Homo sapiens: one gene and its partner. The protein of the gene in region 2 binds, or shares a complex with, the protein of the main gene of each other region. Each region holds a gene or a part of one and is shown on either strand. Other genes may lie near its edges.

The links.
Region 1: the proteins of RHEB (region 2) and PDE6D are in contact, whole or in part, in a crystal structure (PDB 3T5G), measured with the Homo sapiens proteins. Residues at the interface, in NP_005605.1 of Homo sapiens: Pro2, Gln3, Ser4, Gln57, Asp77, Gln176, Gly177, Lys178, Ser179, Ser180, Cys181; in NP_002592.1 of Homo sapiens: Ile53, Leu54, Cys56, Val59, Val80, Gln85, Cys86, Leu87, Glu88, Glu89, Trp90, Ile109, Glu110, Ala111, Ala112, Pro113, Gln116, Met117, Met118, Leu123, Tyr149.

Annotation. Positions count from the first base shown.
Region 1 is NC_000002.12:231,779,732-231,783,479, reverse strand, and holds the start of PDE6D (retinal rod rhodopsin-sensitive cGMP 3',5'-cyclic phosphodiesterase subunit delta), read left to right. Parts: upstream 1-2,197; 5' UTR 2,198-2,365; coding exon 2,366-2,415; intron 2,416-3,748. UniProt on the Homo sapiens protein: Promotes the release of prenylated target proteins from cellular membranes. Modulates the activity of prenylated or palmitoylated Ras family members by regulating their subcellular location.
Region 2 is NC_000007.14:151,513,173-151,516,920, forward strand, and holds part of RHEB (GTP-binding protein Rheb), read right to left. Parts: intron 1-3,748. UniProt on the Homo sapiens protein: Small GTPase that acts as an allosteric activator of the canonical mTORC1 complex, an evolutionarily conserved central nutrient sensor that stimulates anabolic reactions and macromolecule biosynthesis to promote cellular biomass generation and growth.

The DNA.
Region 1 (3,748 bases), on a different chromosome or scaffold from region 2:
CACATTCAGCCAGAACGGCTACAATTAAGAAGACTGACAACAAAACTCTTGTGTTGACAAGGATAAGAGGCACCTAGAACTCTCTCATATTGCTGGCAAAGGCGTAAATTGGTACAATCATTTTGAAAAACTGGCAATGTCTACTATCACTGATCATGTGCATACCCTCCCTACACACTAGCAATTCCTCTCCTAGAAATGTGTGCAAGTGTCTACAAAAAGAAACATGTAAGAATGCTCACTACGGCTTTGCTAATAATAGTCCAAAAAATAACAACCCAAATGCCCGCCAACAGTGGAAAAGATAAATTGTGGTATAAACATACAACAGAATACTATTCAGCAATTAAAAGGCTACACACAACATGGATGAATTTCACAAAAATACTGATAAAGTAAAAAAGCCAGACACATACTGTACATACTGTATTATTATATTTAACTGGAATTCAAGAACAGAGAAAACTGATCTATGGTGATACAGTCAGAAGAGTGATTATCTCAATATGTAAGGATGTAATACTGATTGGGAGGGAGCACTAAGTGTGCTAGAAATGTTCTATATCTTGATTTGGGTAGTGGCGACAGGGGTGTATACCTATGTGAAAATTGTTCCCATACTGTATGTTACACCTCATTAACAAAAAAAAAACTTTTTTAACATGGAAAAAAAATTCAAGTTCAAATGCCACCTTGTCCATTAAAGTTTTGCCAGCTGCAATGAACCTTTTCATCAGGGCCTCCTTAGCATTCTGATGTCATTTCTTTATGCCATTTTATCACACTCCATCTTGAATCTCAGTGGAGTCTCCTTATTTCCCTAAATATATGTTCATCTTCCTGGTGGCAGTGACCATGTCCTTCACCTTTTACCCACTCAGTGCCTGACAAATAACAGGCTGAAAAGATATTTGTTGAATTACATGGAAGAAAAAATTGGGTGAGTTCCCAGATGGGTGAAAGTGGGGACAGGCAGAGGAAGGAAGGCCAAGAGAAGGACAGAGGAGGTTTCCAAGGAAACCGTGGCTCACACTGTAATTTTACCTACTTCCTGAAATCACATTAAATGTCACCTTGAGTGGCAAAAAACAAAACACCAAATCCTACCTAGGCTGAAAATAAATAAATATCACACTCCCTCACTCGCAAGAAATCCACCAAATAAATGCTACCTAATTCTGGGTGTTTCAACAGTGGATAGGAAAACCGTTCAAGGAGAATAATTCACATTGCCATGCTGCTAAAAATATCACCTCCTTAGTGTGGTGCAAAGAGTCCAGACTGCAAGTCAGCCGACTTAGGGCTGAATTCTAACTCTGCCCGAACTTGCTGTGATCTGTGGCCAATCCCTTCGCCTCTCTGGGCCTCAATTTCCTCATACGTAACAACAGGGGATAGATTAGCAAAGTCCCTTTATGTTTTGATATTCTGAGTATACAATCCATAGCTCTCCCGGTGCAAACCAGGAATACAGCAAAAAACCCTGAAATACATGTAAAAGGCGCCTCAGACCAACAAACAAGCACGATTTGAAGAAGTCATTTTGTTCTCTTTCACGGTTTAATCAGTGTTTTTGTTTGTTGTTTGCAGCCTTACCATGATTTGCAGATGTCTGAGTTCCATGTAAACAGAAGTTAACTCTCTGCGGGCTGTCATCTTCTTTTGAGGGTGAGAAGGGTCTTCCCGTTGGGTTTCAAGTCTCGGGATTCCGAAACGACCAACTCAGCGGGCGGGTTTGTGAATTTGCGCACACTGCGCGGCACACTGGAGTCTAAGTTACAGAGGAACCGAGTGCAGGGGATGCTGGGATTTGTAGTCCCCGGGCCTCTTTGTGGTGCGCTGGGATCTGTGGTCCCCCGAGTGCGCCGCTGGAATGCTGGGAAATGTAGTCTCTGTCGCGTCGCACAGTGCAACTCAGCTGCCGTCTCAGACGGCTAGTGTGCTCAGTGGCTGGAGCAGGTCCCTAAAGCCTCTGCAGATCCGAAGCCAACCCTCCGCTGGGACAAACTCTAGGCAACAACACCAGATGAATATTGTGTCCTATGGGACTTCCCGGGGAGGGCCCTTCCCATTGACGTTAACAGTCCCCCTGCGAAGCCGCTGCGCGCTCCTACTGGCTGGTTGAGATGCCAATCGCCAAGGCTGGCTTTCCATTGGTTCCAGGAGGGCACTGCGAGGCTAGGGGGAAGGAGAAGGGATCAGAAGCGGGAGCTGAGGGGAGAGAGAGGCCGGTCCTGGTCTGGCCGCTGCGGCTGCTAGCCCGAGGTCTCCAAGCCGGGCTGCGGCTCCATCCTCGGCTCCTGGGCACCGTCTGCGAGGCTCCGCCGACCAGAGTGAGAAAGCCGCGGGCGGCGACCGCCGCATCATGTCAGCCAAGGACGAGCGGGCCAGGGAGATCCTGAGGGGCTTCAAACTGTATCCGTCCGGGAGCGGGGCGGGGCCGGGAGGACTTGGGAGGCGGCCGCTCACTGAGGAGACTGGCCGGGGGCGGGGGCCGCGCCAGGTGGGCCCCACAGAAGAAGGGCCGCGGGAGGGGAGAGGAAAGGAACAGCGTGCCGAGCACCCGGCGGGACCCGGCGCGAGAGGCGCCCCAAGGGGCGTCCTGAGGGAGGAAGGGGACGTTGACGGGAGCGCCGGGGGGTGGCGGGTGGAGACGGGGGAGCCTGGGGGACGGGGCTGCGAGAGGTGCCGGGCGTCGGAAACGCTGTCGGAGAAGCCGGCTGGGTTCCGATCCCCGGCCGGGACCCAGAGGCCGGGATGGGGCTGCGGCCCGCGGAGAAGGGCTGAGGGGGCGCGGTGGGCTGATCTCGAAGCCTAGAAGCCTCTTTGGCTATAAGCCTACCCGGGGAGCGGGGAACAGTGACTTGGAGCGGGCGACCTTGTGTGGGACAAATACCAGTGCTTTTAAAACTCTCTCAGGTCCCCCACCGCACCGCACCGCACCCCACCCCCGTCTGGTTTCCACAACTTCTCTTCCAAACTTGTGGCTTCTTCCAGGACTGGAGTAGTTGGGGGAGGTGGGGAAAGAGAAGTCCAAGATCGACCTCGTCTTAACACTCTTGGCCTTCTCAGGCATTGGTCACTGCTTCCCCCTCAGCGCCTCAGTTTTCTTTCCAGCAAGATGAGGACCATAGGCTTAGGTGTGGGGTGCCTCGCGCTGGGACTCCTAGCCGAGGTGTCTTTGCTCGCTCCTGTCGGTGCGGTTATGCCTAGCTGTGGTGGAGCTGTCCAGCAATGGTGTGATGTCGCTGGGGCCACGGTAGGATAGAGTGGGGTAGAGAAATCATTGCCTCGGGCCTGTTGTGGTGCCCCTTTTGCATCCTCTCCGTAAGGAAGCTTTGTGTTTTCGTGGAGTGTGTTAGTCTGTCACCATATGATGCAGATGAAAAAATGCAAACTTGGATATTCAAATTTTCCATTCTCCTGCCAACTTTAATCTCTTCATGCATCCTATCTGTAATCTATAGTACGAACGTTCTTAAATTGCTCCCTCAGTGAAAAGGTAGTCACCACTTCAGGGCTCCTCCCTTGGAGGTTTAGTAAAGCACTGTTTTCTTGGTATTCTGTTGCGTTTTCACAATGTCCATGTCACGCTTGCAAATTTAATTGCTTTGCTATAATCAGAAACCAAGTTGGTAATACATTTTAGACCACAGTGCAAAAAGGAAGTTTTGGATGTACAAGTGAGATTTTTCGAATGGAAATTGATCTATGCTTTTTAAAAAAACTAAAGGCTGTATCACCTTTG
Region 2 (3,748 bases):
TGATGGTTGTTTCCAAAAAAAGCACTTGTGCAGTCATTTGAGAAGTGATCTGAACTGGCCACTTTTATCATGGAATGCCTTTTTTACTTGCAAGAATGATGACAAACTATCATTATTGCAAATGTGAATAGCTGGCAGACATTTTCTTGGAAATTAAAGAAACAAAACAGTCAATTCAAGTAAAAACTGGTAGCATGTTGCCAAGGAAATTATTTGAACTCAAGGAGGAAATTAGAATTTTGGAAAACTTGCACCACTCATAGCGAACAGTGTTCTAAAACTTAAGACTTTGCAGAGATTGGTGGTGATATTAACAAATGTGATTTTTAAAAATGCTTGTATAATAAAATGTGTCAACATGTGGAAGATCTGCGTAACGATGAACAAATATTTTCCAAATGACCAGTAACGCTACAAAACCAGGCATGGTAGAAGATCCATTCCAAGTATAAAGCAGACCTGCGGAGTTGGGCAAATTCATCAATATGATTTCAGATTGCATAGTGTAACTATTCTTTGCAAACTATCACTTATGAAGTTTCGGTATCAAAGAATATTCAACTACCTGAAAAACTATTCAAGTACTCCTTACTTCATTAAAATAACGTTAAGGGAATGAATTCAGGAGCAGAGATGAGAATCCAGCTGTTAAGACATTAAAAGATACCTGCAAAACCGTGAAACACCTTATCAAAATTGCAGTTGCTTTTTTGGCAGAAACTGGCAATCTAGTCCTAAAATTCAATATGGAAATGCAAGGGACTGAGAATACCCAAAAACATCTTCAGAAATAATAAAGTTAGAGGACTCATATGCCCCTATTTAAAAACCAGCTACAAAACTACAGTAATCAAGATCGTATGGTACTGGCAGGACAGACATACAGATCAATGGAATGAGTGAGTTCTTCTATTGACGGTCACTTCATCTCGGACAAGGGAATTCAATGAAGAAAGAACATTATTTTAACAAAAGAAGCTAGGGCAACTTGATATCCACATGCAAAAGTATAAAGTTCTATCCCTCCCTCACATCATATACAAATATTAACCACAAATAGATCACAGATCTAATGTAAGAGTTAACAGGATAAAATATCTAGAAGAAAATATAGTAGTAAATCTATATGACCTTGGATTAGGCAATGGCTTCTAAGATGTGACACCAAAAGCATAAGTGGCAGGAGAAAAATAGATATATCGGCCTTCAAATTAAAAACTTTCTGCTTTGAAGGACACCATCGAGAAGGTAAAAGGACAACCCACAGACAGGAGAAATTATTTGCAAATCCTATGATACCACTTCACACCCAATAGGATGGCTAAAATGAAAAAGGCAGTGTAACAATTGTTGACGAGAATGTGGAGAAAATTAAACCCTCATACATTGCTGATGGGAATATAAAATTGTGCAGCTGTTCTGGAAAAAATCTGACAGTTCTTCAAAATATTAAGCACAGAGTTAACCATAATGACCCAGCAATTCCACTCCTAGGAATGTACCCAAGAGAAATGAAAACATGTCTACATAAAAGCTTGTACAGGAATGTTCAAAACATTATTATTCATAGTAGCCAGAAAGTAGAGCTCCAAGTGGTGTCTCACACCTGTAATCCCAACACTGGGAGACTGAGACCAGAGGATTGCTTGAGGTCAAGAGTTCAAGACCAGCTTGGGCAACAAAGCAAGGTTCCCACCTCTACAAAAAAATAAAAAAACTAGCTGGGTGTGATGGCGCACACCTGCAGTCCTAGCTACTCGGGAAGCTGAGGCAGGAGGATCACTTGAGTCCAGGAGGTTGACACTGCAGTGAGCCATGATAGCTCCACTGCACTCCAGCCTGGGCAACAGAGCAAGACCCTGCCTCAGAAAAGTAAATAAATAAAAAATAATAGCCAAAAAAAAAAAGAAAGAAAAGAAACCACCCACATATCCAATTGACAAATGCATAGAAAAAATGTGGTATACTCACATGACAGAATATTAGTCAGCACTAAACAGGAAGAAGCGACATATGCTACAACATGAACGAACCTTGAAAACATTATACTAAGTAAAAGACGCCAGCCCCAGAAGACCACATATGTATGTTCTTATTTATATGAAATGTCCAGAGTAAGTAAATTCATAGAAACAGAAAGATTAGTGGTTGCCAGGGGCTGACAGGGAAGCAGGATGGAGAGTGACTGCTAATGAGTACAGAGTTTCTTTTTGGGGTGATGAAGTACAGAGAGATATAACCCATATGGACAGCAAAATAACATTTGGCACTGGAAAGCCATAATCAGAAATCTGAATTCTGATTATGCTCTTGTGCAGAACAATGAATGAGACTGAAAAACAGTAATTTCAAGTTTCAATACAAAGTGGGCACTTCAGGACTACCCCCACCCACAAGTATACAACATCAGAATATTAAGCACCTGAATATACAATTTCACATACTGGTAGATGTCATACATAGCAAATATTGTTTTGCCTTTCAATTTTTCAATAAAAAGTGTCAACAAATGATAGGTTAACTTAAAAAATAAACAGTAAGTCAGAATCTGCTGGGAACAACCAAATATTTAATGACATCTTTCCTCATGAAGACTCTAAATACTACCTAAACATTTTGACAAAGTAATAATTTGAGTACTTTTGCTGAATTGCCTTCTTCCAAACCACAAAGCTGTTTCATTTTCCCCCTATGATCTTTCACATGCCTGTGATCCCATCCCTCTTATTAACTGTATGTAAGAGGCTTATATATGACAACCAGCTTTTAATTATGGTCTAATGGTAAACTAGGTTACCAAAGCTCTCTGTACAGGTAAAATCCCAGTGAAAGATGTACCAGGCTGAAGACAGTTTACGTAACACTACCATTTTAAGTTGAGTTACTTCCTATCGCGGGACTACTCCGTTGTGGTAGAAATAACGGAATGTCAGGGAGCTGGTACTTTTGGCCATCACGGCAACAGTTAATACAAAGCACTCCCTGAAAGCCAGACTCCCAGAGTTATAGGTGACGTGTCCTTAAAAGCTTTAACATTGTAAATACCAGGAAAAGTACAGGGGACTGGCAGGGAGAATTGTATAGACTACCTGAGAATTATATTTTACCTATTGGTAGTTCTGACAACACTCAAAAAAAAAGAAAAAAAGAAAACGGAAAGCCAAGTAGTGGGCTGGGTGCAGTGACTCATGCCTGTAATCCCAGCACTTAGGGAGGCCGAGGCAGGTGGATCACGAGGTCAGGAGTTCAAGACCATCCTGGCCAAGATGGTGAAACCCAGTCTCTACTAAAAATACAAAAATTAGCTGGGCGGGGTGGCAGGCGCCTGTTATCCCAGCTACTTGGGAGGCTGAGGCAGGAGAATCGGTTGAACCTGGGCAGCAGAGGTTGCAGTGAGCCCAGATCCCGCCACTGCACTCCAGCCTGGGTGATAGAGTGAGACTCTGTCACAAAAAAAAAAAAAAAAAAAAAAGAAAGCCAACTAGTTAAACAAACATAGCACTTTTTTGTTTTATCTGAAGACAACTTTAAAAATAAAGTTTGTGGCATGACAAATCACAATGACAAGTATCCTACTAGTCAAACTGGCTTAATGTATTTAATCAAGAGAACATTCTAAGAAAGGTGTGGAGGCTTTTTATGTGGCTCTACCCCCAGAATATAGGACAAACAGCTCAGCATCACAAAATACCACAATCTAGAAACACAGGTACTCAAATTTCTCTGGTACAGCACCACCATTTGCAAG